Homo sapiens: one gene and its partner. The protein of the gene in region 2 purifies or fractionates together with the protein of the main gene of each other region. This does not show direct contact. Each region holds a gene or a part of one and is shown on either strand. Other genes may lie near its edges. The genes, in order: KCTD15 and KCTD19.

Region 1 (3,810 bases), on a different chromosome or scaffold from region 2:
GGTGACTACGGCACAGAGGAGAGTTACTGAGTGCCTCTGGGGAGGAGCAGTAGAAAGGGTCCATTGGCTGATCTGCTTGCTCTGTGCTTCCTCCTGGCCACCTGGCCATCTCCTGATGCCTCGGGGGTATGTGATCCTGAGGGGTCTGGAATGCATTAGGCATAGACAACACCACTCTGGGAGTCTGGGGAGAAACTGTGAGGTACAGACTAGGCAAACAAAGACAGGTTTTCTCTGCTATTGGGAGCCACAGAGAAGAGGCGGCTTCCCAAGTGACTTGCCCTCATCCATGTGCCTGGACTTCTGCTGAACGGCTTCCCTGTGTCTGGCCAGATGCAAGCTGTATCTTATCACCATGGGGATGGTATTAAGAGAGGTCCTAGGTTCCCTGGCCCATGGAGGGTGAGGGGTGCTTTCTGAGCCTTGGTCCACAAGGCTGTTGCAAGAGGAGACACGCTTGGTAACATGGCTTGAAAGGAAAATACCAGGAAAATCTGGTTTGTTCTGAAATATTTTGGGGCAATAATGGTGAGCATATGTTTCAGTGCTGTCATTAGCCGAATTAGCAGACATGGAGCTGCCCAGAAAACACATGTGTGAGTGTGACTGTGTGTGTGTGCATGTATGTGTGTGTCATCTGCTACAGCCTGGAGGCCTGCTTTGGGGTGTGGAGACAGATAGAGAGATAGTGGCGGTGGAGTCAATCAGGGAGGGCTGCATGGACCTCGCAGGGTCTCAGAGAGCATGCAGAAAGGACAATTCTAAGTGTCTTTGACCCCATGGTACATGACTAGGAGGAATAAGCCTTCTCTGGTTTTGTCGATGCCTCCCGCAGATACTCTGGGCAGGGATGGAAGCCTAGATGCCTCACCGCAAGGAGCGGCCGAGCGGGTCCTCGCTTCACACACACGGCAGCACCGGCACCGCGGTGAGCCTGCAGGGTGGGCTGGGTCCCTGCCGGGAGTTCCCTCTTTCCCTTCTTCCCCAGTGCCTGTTTACTGGCTGTCCTTCCTTGGGACCATGACACTCCAGGTGGCTGTTGACTGGCTGTAGGATTATGTATTTTTGAAACAAAAATGCTCTTAATTTGATGTGAAATTTACTACATGTATAAAACTCAACGCCTTAGGTGCTGAGGAAGTCACTAATTTAGAGGTGTCTCGTTACTGAGACAAACTTGCAAAAAACCCCTGAATCCCAATTCACAAATTGGTGATTCGTTTGTCAGGGGATATTTCACATCTAACACATAAGCCCACGACCTTTAATTAGAATTTTGCAGTTTGTTTTATGCCCCTGGAGGCTGACACCTTGAAAAATTTTTTTTCTTGATTTCTTATTGCTAATAAGCATCTTTCTTTTTCCCTCTGGTACTTTGAAGAAAATGATGCAAATACACTTAATTACAGTGGTGGCCATAATTTGTCAGCTGAATATATGATCAGGCACGGGCAGAAGTGATCTGATTAGATCTGTGATCACACTCTCAATAAAGGGAGTGCATGGCTGTGTTGTGGAGAAACTCTTGTGTTCCGCTTTGAAACTCTTGTGTTCCGCTTTGTTTCCATCTCTAGGAGGGAGGAAACATGTCCCGGCTGTCTCTCACCCGGTCGCCTGTGTCTCCCCTGGCTGCCCAGGGCATCCCCCTGCCAGCCCAGCTCACCAAGTCCAATGCACCTGTGCACATCGATGTGGGCGGCCACATGTACACCAGCAGCCTGGCCACGCTCACCAAGTACCCTGACTCCAGGTAAGAGTAAGCCCCTTGAAACATCAGGCATGTGTGGGTCAGGGCAGCATCTGTAATCTGCTGCCTAGGGGGTGGGGTCTCTCCCCACTGTCACTCCACCCACCAGGGTCTCCAGGGTGCACAAGCTGACACAGCCTGAGGGAGCTAGGGTTGGGGAGTCCAAGTCTGCCTGTTGAAAGCTGCTATGCACAGAGGCTTGTGACCCTGACTTGGCGGCATTGGTAGTGCAAGGTGGAGCTCCTGACCCACCTGCAGGGGACTAGGGCTTATTCAGAGCCAGCCCAGCCTGAGCCTGCCGGCAGCGGGCAGGGGAGTCTCACGTACCTTCAAGGTTCCTCTGGAGGGAGACTTAGGCCCGGCCCCTGCAGGGGGTCATTTGTGAGTGATACTGAGTAGGTAAGTCTTGGGGGCATGGGGGTGGGTATTTAATCCTATTTTCTATTCCACCCCTGGGAAATTCACAAGGGGAGGGAAGAGGAGCTGTGGTGAGCTGCAGTGTGCCATCTTTGTCATTTTCCGTGGCCACTGCTGGGCCCTAGAGGCTAGCAGCAGGCTTCCCTTGGAGCTGGTGCTGCAGTGACTAGCTAGGAATGAATCACATACCTCATCAGTGGATAAAGGGTCTCTGGCCAGGACCCTGGTTGGGGGCTCACAGGCACCCTCCATGCTGCTGAACTTATAGGCTGCCCAGGCCCTTGGGCCTGCGAGAGGTTTGGGGTGCTGGGTGCTGCCAGCTCTCCTGCTCTTCCTTGCAGGGTGTTTCTCTCCTGGGTGAGGGACCTGCTTTCCCCGTTGGCACGGCAGCAGGGCTGACCCGAGTAGGGTGGGTCTTGAGCAGCTTGCTCAGCCGAGGATGTTTGCTCCTGGCACAGAGAGGCGGTCATCGCTCCCCTGGGGCTGCTGAAGGCTGAGCGTGGGAGGGCCAAGGCTGTGGGCATCACCCCTGTGTTATGCATTTGAAATAACAGGAGGAGTTAATTAATCCCCCAGATACTGAGGGATCATCTCTGGGGAGCATACACGGCAGGCTGCATTGTCACCGGTGTGGTTCCTCAGAGCAGGGAGGATGGTAGTGCGCAGAGGTGGCTTTCCAAGCCTGTTGGGGCTGCAGGGGAGCCTGTGCAGGTGCAGGCATGGTCCCTTGAGGAGGAAAAACTGGAAATGGGTGCAGTGTCTAGTTCCAAATTTGGAGAGTCTAGGGTACAGATGGTGACTGGTGTTCCAGTACCCCAGGTGGACAGAGACTCAGCCTGGGGCCCTGTGGCCTTGGGGCTTGTGGGGTGGGGACAAGAGCCACGGGGCCAGGTCAGCAGTGTTGGCCTGTGTGCTCACTCACAGAGCCCTGTCTAGGATGGGAGATAGATTCTGCTTATTTAATTTCCATTTTGCCTTCTGCGGCATTTCTGAGTTGTTTGAGATAGATCATCCCTTAATCGGTTGACGACGTTTGTGAGTGAAATTCATAAAACCTTTGCCCACAACCCTCTCTGAAGAGTTTCCTGAAATCAGAGAGTTGCCTGTCTGGAGTAATCACAGCCCAGGCCCTGGGGGAGGCGGGTGGGAGAGGCTTCTCATTCTGGGCTCTTGGCTGCTGCCTGAGAGCAGGAGGGCAGGGGGCCATCTCCCCCCACCCAGCCCCACTGTGCTGCTCACCCATTGCTTTGTTCTGCTGTGGGATGTGCTCTCATGGGGAGCTAGGGCCCCTGTGGCCCTGTGATCTGGCACTTGGGACCCTCCTGGTGTGCCCAAGGGGTGGCAGTCTATGTTTATTCTTCCCCAGGGCTGGGGCTCAAGGTGAATCTGTTGTTCTGCCTGGATGGCCTCTGGCTGCTGTGGGGGTGCTCTGTAGGCCTGAAGCTTTGGACTAGAGGCCAGGGATGGCTGACCTGCAGGACAATCAGGGGACAGGAGGCCAGGGGGCCTGAGAAGTGGGTCAGGCAGCTGTGCTGGCAAGAGCCCCTCAGATCTCTCTTGTCCTTCCTGTAGTGGATTATTATAATATAAGCAGTTTTCTACCAATTCTGGAAAAAATCAATCTCACCTAGTGTCACTGATCTAGG
Region 2 (3,810 bases):
GTTTGCAAAAGCACTGGGCAATGGTGGGATCGTGGGGAGTGCTTTCCTGTGGCAGTGAACAATGGGGGAGACAGTGTGTGCGTGGAACGCTGGAAGACAGTCTGTCATTCATTTGAGAAATACTCATTGTGCATCACCAGGGCCACAGTCAGACACTGTGCCTGCCCTCAAGAAGCTCTCAGCTTGGGAGAGAAGAAAGATATGAAAGACCACAATTTACGTATACTGAGATTAGAGCCAGTGTCAATTATGAAGTTTCTGGACCTCCAGGAACCCTGGGATTTCTTTCCACAGCATTAGAAGGGAACATTAGAGTCTCGCTCTGTCACCCAGGCTGGAGTGCAGTGGTGCAATCTCGGCTCACTGCAACCTCCGCCTCCTGGGTTCAAGTGATTCTCCTGCCTTAGCCTCCCGAGTACCTGGGATTACAGGTGCCCACCACCATGCCTGGCTAATTTTTGGATTTCTAGTAGAGATGGGGTTTCACCATGTTGGCCAGGCTGGTCTCAAACTCCTGGCCTCAAATGATCCACCAGCCTCGGCTGGTGCTGGGATTATAGGCGTGAGCCACCGTGCCCGTCCTGCCTCTCCATTTTCTCTCCTTTCCTTTCCCCTAGTCCTGGTCCCCTAGCCCCCAGGTCCTCTCCACACAGTGATCTTGCAAACATATGAGGTGAGTCCAAATCACTCCTCATCTTAAAAAACTTTAGTGCTTCCTGTTGCTATGGGATAAATCCAGACTCTCCTTTGCATTGCACATAGGGTCCTTCACAATCAATGGAGGGAGTAGGGTATACACGAAAAGAACAAGGGCTTTGAACTCAGCATATCTGGGGTAAATTCTGACTCTGTCACTTAAAAGCTAACATTTATTACCCATGGACTTTTAAACTGAATCCTTCCAATCTTCCCCTGACAACAAAGTAGGCTCTGGTATCATCACTCCCTTTGAGCACATGGGAAGCTAGGTCCAGGAAGAGGTAGGGGACTAAGTGCACCAAGTAAGTGGAGATACTAGGAATGAAACCCAGGACTCTGGAGCCCAAGCCCTTAGCAACTGTTTTCTTTTTATTGATATGTAATAGTTGTTCATATTTTTGGGGTACATGTGATATTTCAATACATGGATACAATGTATAATGATTAATTTAGGGTAATGAAGATATCCATCACGTCATTTTTTTTTTTTGAGACAGAGTCACACTCTATCACCTAGGCTGGAGTGCAGTGGCATGATCACAGCTCACTGCAGCCTTGACCTACTGGGCTCAACTGATCCTCCCACCTCACCCTCCTGAGTAGCTGGGACCACAGGTGCACATCACAACACCCTGCTAATTTTTTTTTTTTTTTTGAGACAAGGTCTCACTCTGTTGCCCAGGCTGGAGGGCAGTGGCCCAATCTTGACTTACTGCAACCTCCGCCTCCCAGGCTCAGGTGATCCTCCCACCTCAGCCTCCCAAACAGCTGGGACCACAGGCGTGCACCACCACACCTGGCTAATTTTTTTGTATTTTTAGTAGAGGTGGGGTTTCGCCACATTGCCCTGGCTGGTCTCAAACTCCTGGACTCAAGTGATCGGCCTGCTTCAGCCTCCCAAAGTACTGGGATTGCAGGCATGAGCCACCACGCCTGGCCGACAGCCAGCTAAGTTTTAAGTTTTTTGTAAAGACAGGGCTTTGCCATGTTGCCCAGGCTGGTCTTGAACTCCTGGGCTCAAGCGATCCTCCCATATTGGCCTCCTGGGATTATAGGCATGAACCACTGGGCCAGACCCATCACCTCAAACATTTATCTTTTCTTTGTGATGGAAACATTCCAATGATTTTCTTCTAGCTAGTTTGAAATACACAATATATTATTATTAACTATAGTATTCCTAGCGTACTACCAAATACAAGAACTTATTCCTTTTATCTGACTGTAATTTTGTACCCATTATCCAAATTCTCTTCATCTCCTTCCCTCCCCCTACTTTTCCCAGCCTCTGCTGCCTTCCACTTGTCATGTAACTTCTCCAAGCCTCAGGTTCCTCACTGGCAAAGTGGAGGCAGTAAAATCTGGAAGCTGTTGTAAAGATTAAATGAAATAGTATGTTAATTTCCTTCCTTTTGGAGGTCATATCCTAAATTTCTTCCTTCCTTCCTTCCTCCCTCCCTCCCATCCTCCCTCCTTCCTTCCTTCTTTCTTTTCTTTTTTTTTTTTTTTAGTGCCTTGCTGTGTCGCCCAAGCTGGAGTGCAGTCGTACAATCATCATGGCTCATTGCAGCCTTGACCTCTTGGGCTTAAACAATCCTCCTGCCTCAACCTCCCAAGTAGCTGGACCACAGCTGTGCGCCGCAACACCCCATTAACTTTTTGATTTTTTGTAGAGATGAGGTCTTGCTATGTGGCCCAGGCTGGTCTCAAACTCCTTAGCTTAAATGATCCTCCCACCTCGGCCTCCCAAAGTGTTGGGATTACAGGCATGAGCCACTGCGCCCAGCCTAAATTACCTTTCCAGCCTCATTTCCCATCATTCTTTATGTTTACACCCCATCATCAGTGACACTAAACTCCACAAAACTCCAAAAACACATCACGTTCTTTGACACCTCCCCAGCTTTGTGTACGCTGTTCCATCTGCCCAGAATACTCCTCCCCATTCTCTTCCTGAAGAGCCTGGAGCCTCTCTGAGCCAGAATGGGTCATCCCCCCACTTTGTTCCCACAGACACTCAACACTTTCACTTCTCTCTGCAGGCCTCTGGCTCAGTTTCAGGCCAGTTCTTCCCCCTATACCAAGCTTCCTGGGGAGAGGCTGGTTTGATGCATCCCCATTTTGTGTTCTAGAACCTAGCATGCATATGAAAGAATGCATGAAAATGGAGGGCTAGCCAGGTGCGGTGGCTCACACCTGTAATCCCAGCACTTTGGGAGGCCGAGCTGGGCCGATCACTTGAGGTCAGGAGTTTGAGACGAGCCTGGCCAACATGGCAAAACCCCAACTCTACTAAATATACAAAAAATTAGCCGGGCTTGGTGGTGCATGCCTGTAGTCCCAGCTACTCTGGAGGCTGAGGCAATCATTTGAACCCAGGAGGCAGAGGTTTCAGTAAGCCGAGATCATGCCACTGCACTCAAGCCTAGGAGACAGAGCGAGACTTCAGCTCAAAAAAAAAAAAAAAAGAAAAAAGAAAGAAAGAAAGAAAAGGAAGGGCTGGAGGGCTGATTCTCTGCAAAGAAAAGCAAAAAGAAACATGGGAGATCTCCAAAGAAGCGAACAGAGAAGTAGACTGCACTCATAAAACTGAGAAAGATGGAAAGACATTGAGTATCCAAAACCACAGGAAAAACCAGCACAAGATTACAATGGGCAGAGCCTATGGAGTTCAGAGGACAATGAAGACAGGGATTCCACGTTGGGATCTGGAGGCCAGAGGGAAGACCTAACGGGGAGAGGGACAGGGATGAAGGAGAGGGAGAGAGGATGGCAAGAAGAAAGGGTTTAGCTTGGGTCTGATTTGTGATGGACAGAAAGACAGTAGGCAAAGTAGCAAGAAAAGAGTGAAACTAGGGAAAGTCAGCTAGGGCAGCGTAGCACTCCAAGCCCATGCTCAGTGGACTGCATCACAGGAGCTTGAATCTGCCACTTACTTCACCTACAGATTCAACCCCCAAGATTCTGTCTTAGTGGAGAAAATAATAGTGCCTTTGAACAACTCTAAATTGGCCACGTGGGAGAAGGCCTGTGGTGGGGAGAAGGGGAGAGAAATCCCTGCCCAGGACAACACTCCTATTTGGAGGTGTTTGGTACTGGATGTGTCCTCTG

Evidence for each region.
Region 1: the proteins of KCTD19 (region 2) and KCTD15 purify together in Homo sapiens (affinity purification with mass spectrometry; one large-scale study listed by BioGRID and IntAct). This does not show direct contact.

The regions. Positions count from the first base shown.
Region 1 is NC_000019.10:33,799,593-33,803,402, forward strand, and holds part of KCTD15 (BTB/POZ domain-containing protein KCTD15), read left to right. Parts: intron 1-1; coding exon of another isoform or gene 2-30; exon of another isoform or gene 31-126; intron 127-835; 5' UTR 836-862; coding exon 863-928; intron 929-1,574; coding exon 1,575-1,750; intron 1,751-3,810. UniProt on the Homo sapiens protein: During embryonic development, it is involved in neural crest formation. Inhibits AP2 transcriptional activity by interaction with its activation domain.
Region 2 is NC_000016.10:67,305,978-67,309,787, forward strand, and holds part of KCTD19 (BTB/POZ domain-containing protein KCTD19), read right to left. Parts: intron 1-3,810. UniProt on the Homo sapiens protein: Transcription regulator which is essential for male fertility and for the completion of meiotic prophase in spermatocytes. Regulates progression of the pachytene stage of meiotic prophase and promotes the transcriptional activation activity ZNF541.